Homo sapiens: one gene and its partners. The protein of the gene in region 2 purifies or fractionates together with the protein of the main gene of each other region. This does not show direct contact. Each region holds a gene or a part of one and is shown on either strand. Other genes may lie near its edges. The genes, in order: NBR1, THEM5 and MGME1.

What was found.
Region 1: the proteins of THEM5 (region 2) and NBR1 purify together in Homo sapiens (affinity purification with mass spectrometry; one large-scale study listed by BioGRID and IntAct). This does not show direct contact.
Region 3: the proteins of THEM5 (region 2) and MGME1 purify together in Homo sapiens (affinity purification with mass spectrometry; one large-scale study listed by BioGRID and IntAct). This does not show direct contact.

What each region holds. Positions count from the first base shown.
Region 1 is NC_000017.11:43,174,099-43,177,751, forward strand, and holds part of NBR1 (next to BRCA1 gene 1 protein), read left to right. Parts: intron 1-1,692; 5' UTR 1,693-1,701; coding exon 1,702-1,803; intron 1,804-3,653. UniProt on the Homo sapiens protein: Ubiquitin-binding autophagy adapter that participates in different processes including host defense or intracellular homeostasis.
Region 2 is NC_000001.11:151,847,048-151,850,800, forward strand, and holds the end of THEM5 (acyl-coenzyme A thioesterase THEM5), read right to left. Parts: exon of another isoform or gene 3,186-3,753; intron 1,246-3,185; coding exon 1,135-1,245; intron 816-1,134; coding exon 691-815; intron 368-690; coding exon 324-367; coding exon of another isoform or gene 73-323; 3' UTR 54-72; downstream 1-53. UniProt on the Homo sapiens protein: Has acyl-CoA thioesterase activity towards long-chain (C16 and C18) fatty acyl-CoA substrates, with a preference for linoleoyl-CoA and other unsaturated long-chain fatty acid-CoA esters.
Region 3 is NC_000020.11:17,988,816-17,991,771, reverse strand, and holds the end of MGME1 (mitochondrial genome maintenance exonuclease 1 isoform 2 precursor), read right to left. Parts: intron 1,834-2,956; coding exon 1,663-1,833; coding exon of another isoform or gene 1,586-1,662; 3' UTR 650-1,585; downstream 1-649. UniProt on the Homo sapiens protein: Metal-dependent single-stranded DNA (ssDNA) exonuclease involved in mitochondrial genome maintenance. Has preference for 5'-3' exonuclease activity but is also capable of endonuclease activity on linear substrates.

The DNA of each region.
Region 1 (3,653 bases), on a different chromosome or scaffold from region 2:
TAGAGGTACATACTCAATTCTTAATGGATAAAAGCATAGATGTCTGTCAAAATAATCTAGTAGGGAAAGGGTATTGCTGTAAACCTTTGGTTACAGCAAATTGGTCCTGAGTTGATAATTATGAAAGAAGCTAGCTTATGGGTCCATAGGGATTCATTATATTCTCTCTACTTTTGTATAGATTTAAATTTTCCCATAAAAATATTTTAAAAAATAGTCCGGGCATGGTGGCTCACGCCTGTAATCCCAGCACTTTGGGAGGCCGAGGTGGGTGGAATCACGAGGTCAGGAGATCGAGACCATCCTGGCTATCACGGTGAAACCCCGTCTCTACTAAAAATACAAAAAAATTAGCCAGGCGTGGTGGCGGGCGCCTGTAGTCCCAGCTACTCAGGAGGCTGAGGTGAGAGAATCGCTTGAAACCAGAAGGTGGAGGTTGCAGTGAGCCAAGATTGTGCCACTGCACTTGAGCCTGGACGACAGAACAAGACTCTATCTCAAAATAAATAAATACAATAATATAAAATAATTATATTATTATAGTTTGGTTAAAACATTAGTTGACTATGGTCAGTTCATTGTTGGGGCAGAAGTGGGAGATGCGGGGGTATATGTGAATGAGGATAGCCTTGAGTTGATTGTTGGTTTAACTAAGTGTTTATTACTCTCCACTTTTATATATGTTTGAAATCCCCCATTTAAAAAATCAGTACAAGGCCAGGTGCGGTGGCTCATGCCTGTAATCCCAGCATTTTGGAAGGCCAAGGCAGGCAGATCATGAGGTCAGGAGATCGAGACCATTTTGCCTAACACGGTGAAACCCCGTCCCTACCAAAAATACAAAAAAAAAAAAAAAAATTAGCCGGATGTGGTGGCGGGCACCCCAGCTACTCGAGAGGCTGAGGCAGGAGAATGGCGTGAACCCAGGAGGTGGAGGTTGCAGTGAGCTGAGATCGTGCCACTGCACCCCAGCCTGGGGCGATAGAGCGAGACTCCGTCTCAAAAATAAATAAATAAATAAAATAAAATAAAAAATCAGTAGATTGTGAAAAAACATAGTAACTTGGATGGAGGGCATTGAATGCTACCTCTGTGTAGTTTCTTGGCTAGTGTTTTGGCCTGTAAGTTCGTAAAACTGGTAGAAAACCTAGGTTCTCAAGTTAGGACAACCCTCCTTCTGCAAGAAAAATGTAGAATGTCACTCTCAAGTCATACAAGAATACAAGTTCCCTGAGGGCAGAGACCTTATCTCTCTTATCCATGTTGGTATGTCCTGCTACTAGTAAGTATTTGTTTAGTTAACCAGTCATCATAAAGTACCGTAAGGATTTTACAAATGCTAGATGATTTCTGGGAATGTGGTCAAAATTTAAATACTTTCAGCATACTTCTGTTTCCACATGTTTCCAACATGTGGAAGTTCCTAATAACTTCAAGAATAATTTTTGTGACTTAAGTACAAGTCTTTATGGCATGGTTTTAGCCTATCTTTCTTTCCTGAAACAATTCCTATTTAACAGTGATGGTAAGTTTCGTAAGAACAGGGACAGTGTTTCTTTTGTTCATTGCTGTCTCCCAAGCCCAGCCCATATTGGGTCCTCACAAGTATTTGCTGAGTGAACTTTTAGTGCAACTTATAGAACCCTTTCTAATGTGTTTTTCTCTCTCTCCCACCAACCTTCTCAACCCTAGCCTCACAGCATGGAACCACAGGTTACTCTAAATGTGACTTTTAAAAATGAAATTCAAAGCTTTCTGGTTTCTGATCCAGAAAATACAACTTGGGCTGATATCGAAGCTATGGTGAGTGTTACTTTATTTTGTTTCTCCTTGGTTTAAGCATGGTTATTTTTTCCAAAGGTAGCTATTTTTAGCAGTGTTGTTTCATAGCTGTGAAGTCTGTCATAGTTACCATTTCTGGGCCTTTTGGAAAATTGCTTTTGATAGGGTTTCAGTATTCATATATGAGATGTGCCCCAATAAAGGGAACCAACACATAAATTTCCTTTTGAACATTTTAGAAAGGGAAGGTAAAATTGTTTTTAGTGAGATAGGATTTAGAAAACCTATTAATTTTAGAACCAGTATGAGGAGTGAATTGGTGTGGACTCCACCCAACCAGATCCCAAGGAAATGTTCTCTTGTGTGAGGATATGACTTGTGTTTTGCACAAGGATATAACTTGTGTTTTGCAAGAGCCTATCAATTGTTTTTATTGCTAGGTCAGAGGTTGAGTATCTCAGAGTTGAGCAGGAAAAACTTTCATACCTGCTTAGACAGCAGTTCACCTGTTCCGTTTTTTTGCTAAGGCTTTTCCTCCTCTTGGTTTGCCCTTTGTACTCTTCTGTTTTTGTTCAGTTTGCAGTGGTGAATGTTTTACTTCCTGTGTTGACTGTGTTTCTCTCTGAAACCCTTTGGTAAAAATCTACGTTTACCTGGTTATATCTGATGATAACTAAAAAGGGAAAGAAATGGTAGATCTTAAAAGATGATCTGAGGTAGTTGTCTGCCTTCCAGCAAATACCTGTTCATACTGTCCTATCAGTGACAGTGAGACCCGTCTCAAAAAAAAAAAAAAGATTGGATTCAGAAAGAAGTTAGATCTTGTTTGCCAAAAGATGTGAAAATCAGTTATCTTTCTTTTCCTAGTAGTTAAATGAGCTGACAGCTTGCCTTTTTTCTTCCTTGTAAATTTTAAATTGTATAAGTATAATACATGCCCATTTTAAGAAGAGAAACCATCTCAAGCAGTTAATAGCCCTCCATTCTCCCCCCCCTCATCTGTTACTCCCACCTTCTTTGGGTAACCAATGTTAACAGCCCTGTATGTACTTTAAATTTTCCATGTTCATGCAGATATCATACTAGGATCATACTATAAACATTATTTGGCCAGGCACAGTGGCACACGCCTAGAATCCCAGCACTTTGGGAGGCCAAGATGGGTGGACCACTTCAGCTCAGGAGTTTGAGACCAGACTGGGCAACATGGTAAAACCCCATCTCTACCAAAAAAATACAAAAATTAGCTGGGCCTGGTAGCAGGCACCTGTGGTTCCAGCTACTCCGGAGGTTGAGGTGGGCGAATTGCTTGAGTGCTGGAGGTTGAGGCTGCAGTGAGCCAAGATCAAGCCACTATAATCCAGCCTGAGCGACAGAGTGAGACCCATCTCAAAAAAAAAAAAAAAAAGATATTTTTCGTTTTTTTTTTTTCTTATCTTGAAACTTCAGGAGATATCCATCTATACACATAACTTATACACTGTTCTACAGGATAAACTCTGTCCTATACAAATGTGAGATTAATGGGTCACAAAGCATTTTATTTGAAATTTTAATAGATTCTGCCAAATGCTTTGCAGAACAATTGTAGCAGCACACAGAAATACATGACAGTGTCCTGAAGTTTTGACAACACTGGATGTTATGGCTTTAAAAAACATTTGCTGTTCCCTACCCCACACCCCACCCAAAACACACACACACACACACACACACACACACACACACACACACACACACAGTTTGGTATTCTGATGAGATGTCATCTCATTGCTTCAATTTGCATTGTTCTGACCACCAGAAAGTTTGAAAGTCTTCTGATGTATTTGTTAGGTGTTCTGATTTCCTCTTGTATGAATTTTATGTATATT
Region 2 (3,753 bases):
GATGCCCTGGAAGGATTTTGATTTCCAACCACAGAAAGGCCCTGGGCCGAGAATGGGACTGTGAGACTTTATTTACTCAGAGAAAAGGGTCCTTTCCCTCGCCTCACCAATTGCTGCTTGAGGACCCCTCCCTGCTCTTTGATGGGTCCCAGGCAGGCAGGGGAGGCAGGAGGCAGGAGGCAGGCAGGGGAGGCAGGAGGCAGGAGGCAGGCAGGGGAGGCAGGAGGCAGGCAGGGGAGGCAGGAGGCAGGAGGCAGGCAGGGGAGGCAGGAGGCAGGAGGCAGGCAGGGGAGGCAGTGGCTCTCCTGCAGGCACAGTGACTGTTACTGGGGAGACTCTTCTTCCAACTGCAGCTGAAGGAAAACACCTGCAAGAGAAGGGTGAGTTGAGCTGCAAGAGCTGCACTGAGATGGCTGGAGCTTGATGGACACTCTGAGCATTTGGCTGCAAATTACCCATTACCTGGGTCCTGTCCTTTCGTTACAGGTTGGATAACTCATATATAGAAAAAAAAATCCTAGTTCTGCTCTCCCTTGCTTCATCTGTGTCCCTAGTAGGTGCCCTATCCCACCCCTAAAGAAGCTGGACCGCAGCTTGGGATGAATCATTGGCATCTTTTCTTCCTCCTGTTTGTTCTGGGGGTGGGTGGTGGTGGGACGGGGCCTGGGGCTGGGCTGGGGGCTCCTTTACCTGAGGACTTGGCATAAACTGTCTGCTGGTCTCTGCTGTGGGCGATGCAGGACATGTAAAGCTTCTGGTCCTCAATCTTGTCCAGTTCTACGTCCATTACAACCAGAGAGTCCACGGGGATCAAGCTGGGAGACGAGGCAGCTTAGCCCATCTCTCATGTGAACCCGGTTCCCCATCCCTTCACTCTCTGTGTCCTCTTCCCTCTCTTCATCCCTCCCGGCCTCGAGGACTCAGAAGTGGCCCTGGGCTCAGGGCCTTTTTGTCAGCTCCCAAAGTTGGACAGCAGAGGCTGTGTCCTGGCCAGGGACTAGAGGAATTGCTTGGGAGTGGGCTGGGGAAGGAGAGTGGCAGGCAGGGCTCCTACACCCCAGCTGCCGAGGATGGCCACTTCCAGGGATGAAAAGGTCTGTGACTTTGGCCAATGCCCCAGGGGCCCATACTTACTTTTTGAACCTGATGTTGAGACTTAGTGTGAACAGCCCCTCTCCAGCCAGGAAGGCAGTTTTAGAAAAGGTCTCGTCCATCATGGCTGCCAGGGACCCGCCGTGAGCAAACCTGGGGGTGGGGTAAGGTGAGGAGCAAGGCCTGGGCTGGGGCTGCTGGGCAGACCCCCTCAATGGGCCTTCCCTCCCTCCTGTGGTGATCCTACCTTTCCCTTTCCCTAGACCCTTCCAAACACAGACGTTCAGCCTCAGGGCAGCCAAATAGGAAAGAAGGAAACAGCTGCATCCCATCTGATCAAACCCGTCAAAATCAACTGAGCTTTTCTGTTTTGCTTCAGCATGCGTTTGCAGCCAATGATACAACATTTTATTTCATCAGGGAAATTGTTTTTTTCTGATAAAGTTAATAGAAAACATTTTTCTGGTTCATTACCTAATTGCTGGCAATAATTGCCATAATTTGGAAGGATGGGCATATACAGGAAATGAAAAAGTCCCTGAACTTTTTGACTCAGTCTTTGAGGCACAACCCTGGGCTGTTTCTCACCTTACCAGTCACTACAGCCAGTGCGGGGCCCACATCTCAAGATAAGTAAATGTGAAACATAACTTATGACCTATCAAGGGCTGGCATGACACACTTCTGAGCAGCGTTGCCACAGAAAGCAGAGCGCCTGCTTCAGCAGGCTCAATGCTGAAATTGAGCTGAAATGCTCAAATGCCGCAGACATTTGCTTTATTTAGAATGCATAGAATGGCCAGTCGCAGTGGCTCACGCCTGTAATCCCAGCACTTTGGGAGGCTGAGGTGGGCAGATCACTTGATGTCAGGAGTTCGAGACCAGCTTGGCCAGTATGGTGAAACTCCGTCTCTACTAAAAAATATAAAAATTAGACGGGTGTGGTGGCAAGCGCCTGTAACTCAGCTACTCGAGAGGCTGAGACATGAGAATCGATTGAACCCGGTGGGTGGAGGTTGCAGTGAGCTGAGATTGTGCCACTGCATTCCAGCCTGGGCAACAGATCAAGACTGTCTCAAAATTAAAAAAAAAAAAAAAAGCGTAAAATGTTCATTCTTGCTTTTGCAAGCTTTATGTCAGCTACTTCATGGTTGGCTAATTTGGGAAAATAGGCACCCATTTTAGAATTCAAATAACACCAAGCAGATTTGAGTTCCTGATTTTCAAAAGCACAGCCCATTCTCCACAGAGCCAGATCAGCTGTCCACACTGTACTGCCATGGGTTACCCTCCTGCTGCTGTGACCAGTGGCTTTTCCAGACCCTTCCCTCCCTGCTTCTTTAGTCTCTATCCACCCAGTTGGACTCCTTGTCCCACAGCTCACTACATGTTTGATCTTGAGCAAATTGCTAAACCTTTCTGAGCCTTAGTTTTTCCACCATGAATTTCACAATTCTGATCTCAGCAGATTAAATAAACAAATGTTTGCAAACATAATTTACACACTTCTTAGGCACTTCCCTGTCTGCCTCCCAAATTGCTTGAAAGAGAGTGAAAAGAGTTGGTGTCAAAGAACTCGAAACCAACTCTCTCCTCCTTGTCCTCACTGGCCAGCCTGGGGACCCATTGGCCAGTATGTGGATCTACAGAGTAGCTCTTGGCCAACGAGTAACTCCTCCTTCCCACTCCCCATGGTCTAGGGGCCTGGTGGATACTAATCTCTTCTCTAGACCCCCAACCCCTCAATCCACTGACTGGCCTTAGTGTTGGATGGTCCTCCTCTGCCTCTTTGGCCTCACTTCCATCAGCCCCTAAATAAAAGTCAGCCATGCTTCAGAAAGGAGGGAGTCCATGGCCTGGGCAGGGCTCTGAGCAATTCACTAGTATCTGCACAGCCTAGTGTGTGGAGCAGTGTCCCTGTGGAGGACTCCTTTGGGATGGCCAAGGTGACTGAGGGCTGCAGTTGGCATCCACAGCCTCTGGAGGCCCTGACATCTATTTAGCACTCTGGATTCTATTTAACCCCAGTTAAGCCCCTCTCAGGCTTCAGGACCCTAAAGCCACTCCTGCCCTCTCTTGTCTCTCCCTTGCAGGAGCTCCAGCACCACCTCCAGCCTTCAGTGACTGTCTGGAGCAGGCATCCGGATGGAAGAGAAGGGGGACAACCATGAACTTGGTGACCCACGGTCAGCCTGATTTCCCTTGTGGACACATTTATGCCCAGTGTGCATTCCTCCTGAGGTCTGTTCCAAGTCTGGAGGCAGCAGAGTAGAGTGGAGAGAACAGTGGACTTGGAATCTCACCTCCCAGATTAGAGTCCTGGATCTGACTTTGATTGCTGGTGCTGCCTCGGGCAAGTTACTTTAGCTGTGTGCATCTCCATTTCCCCATGGATAGAACATGGGTTTTGGGTAGAAGTGTCTGATAGCTGTACTGTGCTTTACGGTTCATGAGCACGCACACATAGGCCCATAATATCATATCTCTGGTCACCCTGGCAGGTAGATATTATTGCCCCAGGTTTCAGGTAAGAAGACTAAAGACCAGGGGTCAATTGCTTGCTCAGAGTCCCACAGCCAGCAGCAGCCAGGCAGGACACCAAGTCAGAGTCTAGATTCCGGATCTTGCCCTCTTCCAAGTGTACCACATTCTTCTCAAAGT
Region 3 (2,956 bases), on a different chromosome or scaffold from region 2:
TCTGCTAGCACAACTTTTAATTGCCTCACTTCATTTTTGACTGGAATTTACAGGCTACAGAAATATGTATCTGCAGCTTGAGAAAAACCCACATGAATGCAGAAGTGTATAGAGATAATACAAAGGTCCCCCTTGATCCTCCCATCTCCTACCTGAATATTGCTTTCCTTGCTAGGTGACCGTGGCTGAGGGCTTAGTGAGGAGGCTTTTTTTTTTTTTTTTTTTTAAACGGAGTCTCGCTCTGTCGCCCAGGCTGGAGTGCAGTGGCGTGATCTCGGCTCACTGCAAGCTCCGCCTTCCGGGTATACGCCATTCTCCTGCCTCAGCCTCCGGAGCACCTGGGACTACAGGCGCCCGCCACGACGCCCAGCTAATTTTTTGTATTTTTAGTAGAGACGGGGTTTCACCGTGTTACCCAGGATGGTCTCGATCTCCTGACCTTGTGATCCGCCCGCCTCGGCCTCCCAAAGTGCTGGGATTTCAGGCGTGAGCCACTGCGCCCAGCCGAGGACGCTTTCTTTTATGCACTTACACAGAACTCTCACCAAAGCTATTGGGCTTGTAAAATTCTGAATTATAAAAAAAGTGCAAACAATTTCCAGGTTTATAAAATTATCCTATAAACACACAAAGTAAACAAAACCAAAGCTTCATTACTCATATCTTGTATTTTATTTCTTATGAAAATGGCTACCCAAAGAAGTCATTGTAGCAGGCTACTATTTTAAGGCAGCAACTGTATAACTTAAATGCTAAGACTCACTCCATAAGACAGAAAACCCTTCCCCAGGGCTGTAATGGGCATTTAAGTTTCCCAAACCCAGGGACAACTAATTTTTATTACCTATTGAATAGAAACAAATGGATTTTAATAGTTCCCCTCCCCTATAGCTGAAAAACTCCACAAACAATAATTGACTCTATCTACATGATCTGTTGACTCACGCCAGAAATAGTTACTAAAACACTTAGAATTGTGATGTTCAAACTGGCCTCTGGCTACTTCTGGGGGGTTATTTGGTGTTACGCAATGACATATTGCCAGCGACATGGTGAATATACTGTCTTTATAGTCAGCAATGTTTAGTTGAGGCTAATCACGTATTTATTTTTTCAAAAGGTTAAATGTAAGCTTTTCCCAGCTGAAATATATAGAAAACCCCAATGTATGAAACAAGTTTTAGGCATTGGTGTTGGCAGCGGTAGTGGGCTGATGTGTCCTCCCTGCACACAGCTGGGGGCATGTAGCCCCTTCCCCTCTGGGTGAACCCTGGGGAAATCTTGGCACCCTCAGCCTCACTGCCTTCCAATCTCAGCTCAAAGACTGGGCATCCTGCCTGGGACCACGCCCCCCCCCCCCCAATGTCCCTCAAGGGAGTACAAGAGTCACCAGCATGACTGCCCATCCTGCGTGTCCTCCTTTCAGGTAAATAAGAGGTAGCATAGCTGGGATTTCGCGTGCCGAAGTCTAGGTCTTTATATCTAGACTTTGGGGCTTTTCAGTCTTTTTGGTAACAACACATTTCAACAAATTAATACTTCTACTTGTGTTCGTGTAGCACTCAGATCCAGTGGCACCTCATTTTTACACTGGAGTAAACAGCAATATATGTTCCCAAACTGTGAGAAGGTGCTGAATGTTCCCAAATAGCAACTTGCTCCCTATTCTGAATATTCTGGTTTCTGAATATTCTGGTTCTTTTTCTTTTCCGTATATTCTTCTAGTCGAAGAAGCCACTTGGTCCAGTACTGGGAACAGAGCTCTGCATCCATGAAATGTGGGTGGGCAGGTGATCCATCTTTGTAGGCCACCACAATTAAGCCACATTGAACCTAGGAAGAAACACAGGGCAATTCTCGTTTCACTACAGTAGGTCCAGAGTTTAGGTTCGTTTCCTTCTTACTCCAGGGCAAACTCAGTATAAAATAATCTACAGGATATCTCCTAACTCAGTTTCTAAGGTAGGTTGATCAAAGACTGCACCAGGACACAAGAACACAAAGATGACAGATAAAACATTGAAGACTGGGCTGTGATCCTTACAGAGCCATTGAAAAAAAAAAAAGGCCCAAGAAGAGGGTGGAAAAGTGCTTTTTTTTTCTTTTTTGAGACAGGATCCCACTCCCATCGTCCAGGCTGGAGTGCAGTGGCACAATCTCGGCTCGTTGCACCCTCGAAGCTGAGGCGGGCACCACTTCCGGCTGATTTTTCTATTTTTAGTAATGATGGAGTTTTGTCACGTTGCCCAGGCTGGTCTTGAACTCCTGGGCTCAAGCAATCTGCCCACCTCGGCCTCCTTCAAAGTGCTGGGATTACAGGCATGAGCCACCACCCCTGGCCAAAAAGTGCTATTTATTTATTTATTTATTTATTTATTTATTTGGAGAGAGACAGTCTTGCTCTGTTGCCCAGGCTGGAGTGCAGTGGAACAACCTTGGCTCACCGCAACCTCCGCCTCCTGGGTTCAAGCGATTCTCCTGCCTCAGCCTCCCAAGTAGGTGGGACTAGAGGCACACACCACCACGCCCAGCTAATTTTTGTATTTTTAGTAGAGACAGGGTTTCGCCATGTCAGCCAAGCTGGTCTTGAACTCCTGACATCAGGTGATCTGCCCAACTCGGCCTCCCAAAGTGCTGGAATTATAGGCTTGGGCCACCACACCTGGCCTATTTATTTATTTTTGAGACAGGGTTTTGCTCTGTCGGCCAGGCTAGAGTGCAGTGGTACAATCTCGGCTCACTGGAACCTCCACTTCCTGGGCTCAAGCAATCCTCCCACCTCAGCCTCCCAAGTAGCTGGCACAAGTGTGCGCCACCATGTCCAGCTAATTTTTGTATTTTTTTTGTAGATACGGGGTTTCACTATGTTGCCCAGGCTGGACTCAAACTCCTGAGCACAAGCAATCTGCCTGCCTCGGCCTCCCAAAGTGCGTGAGCCACTGTGCCCAGCCAAAAA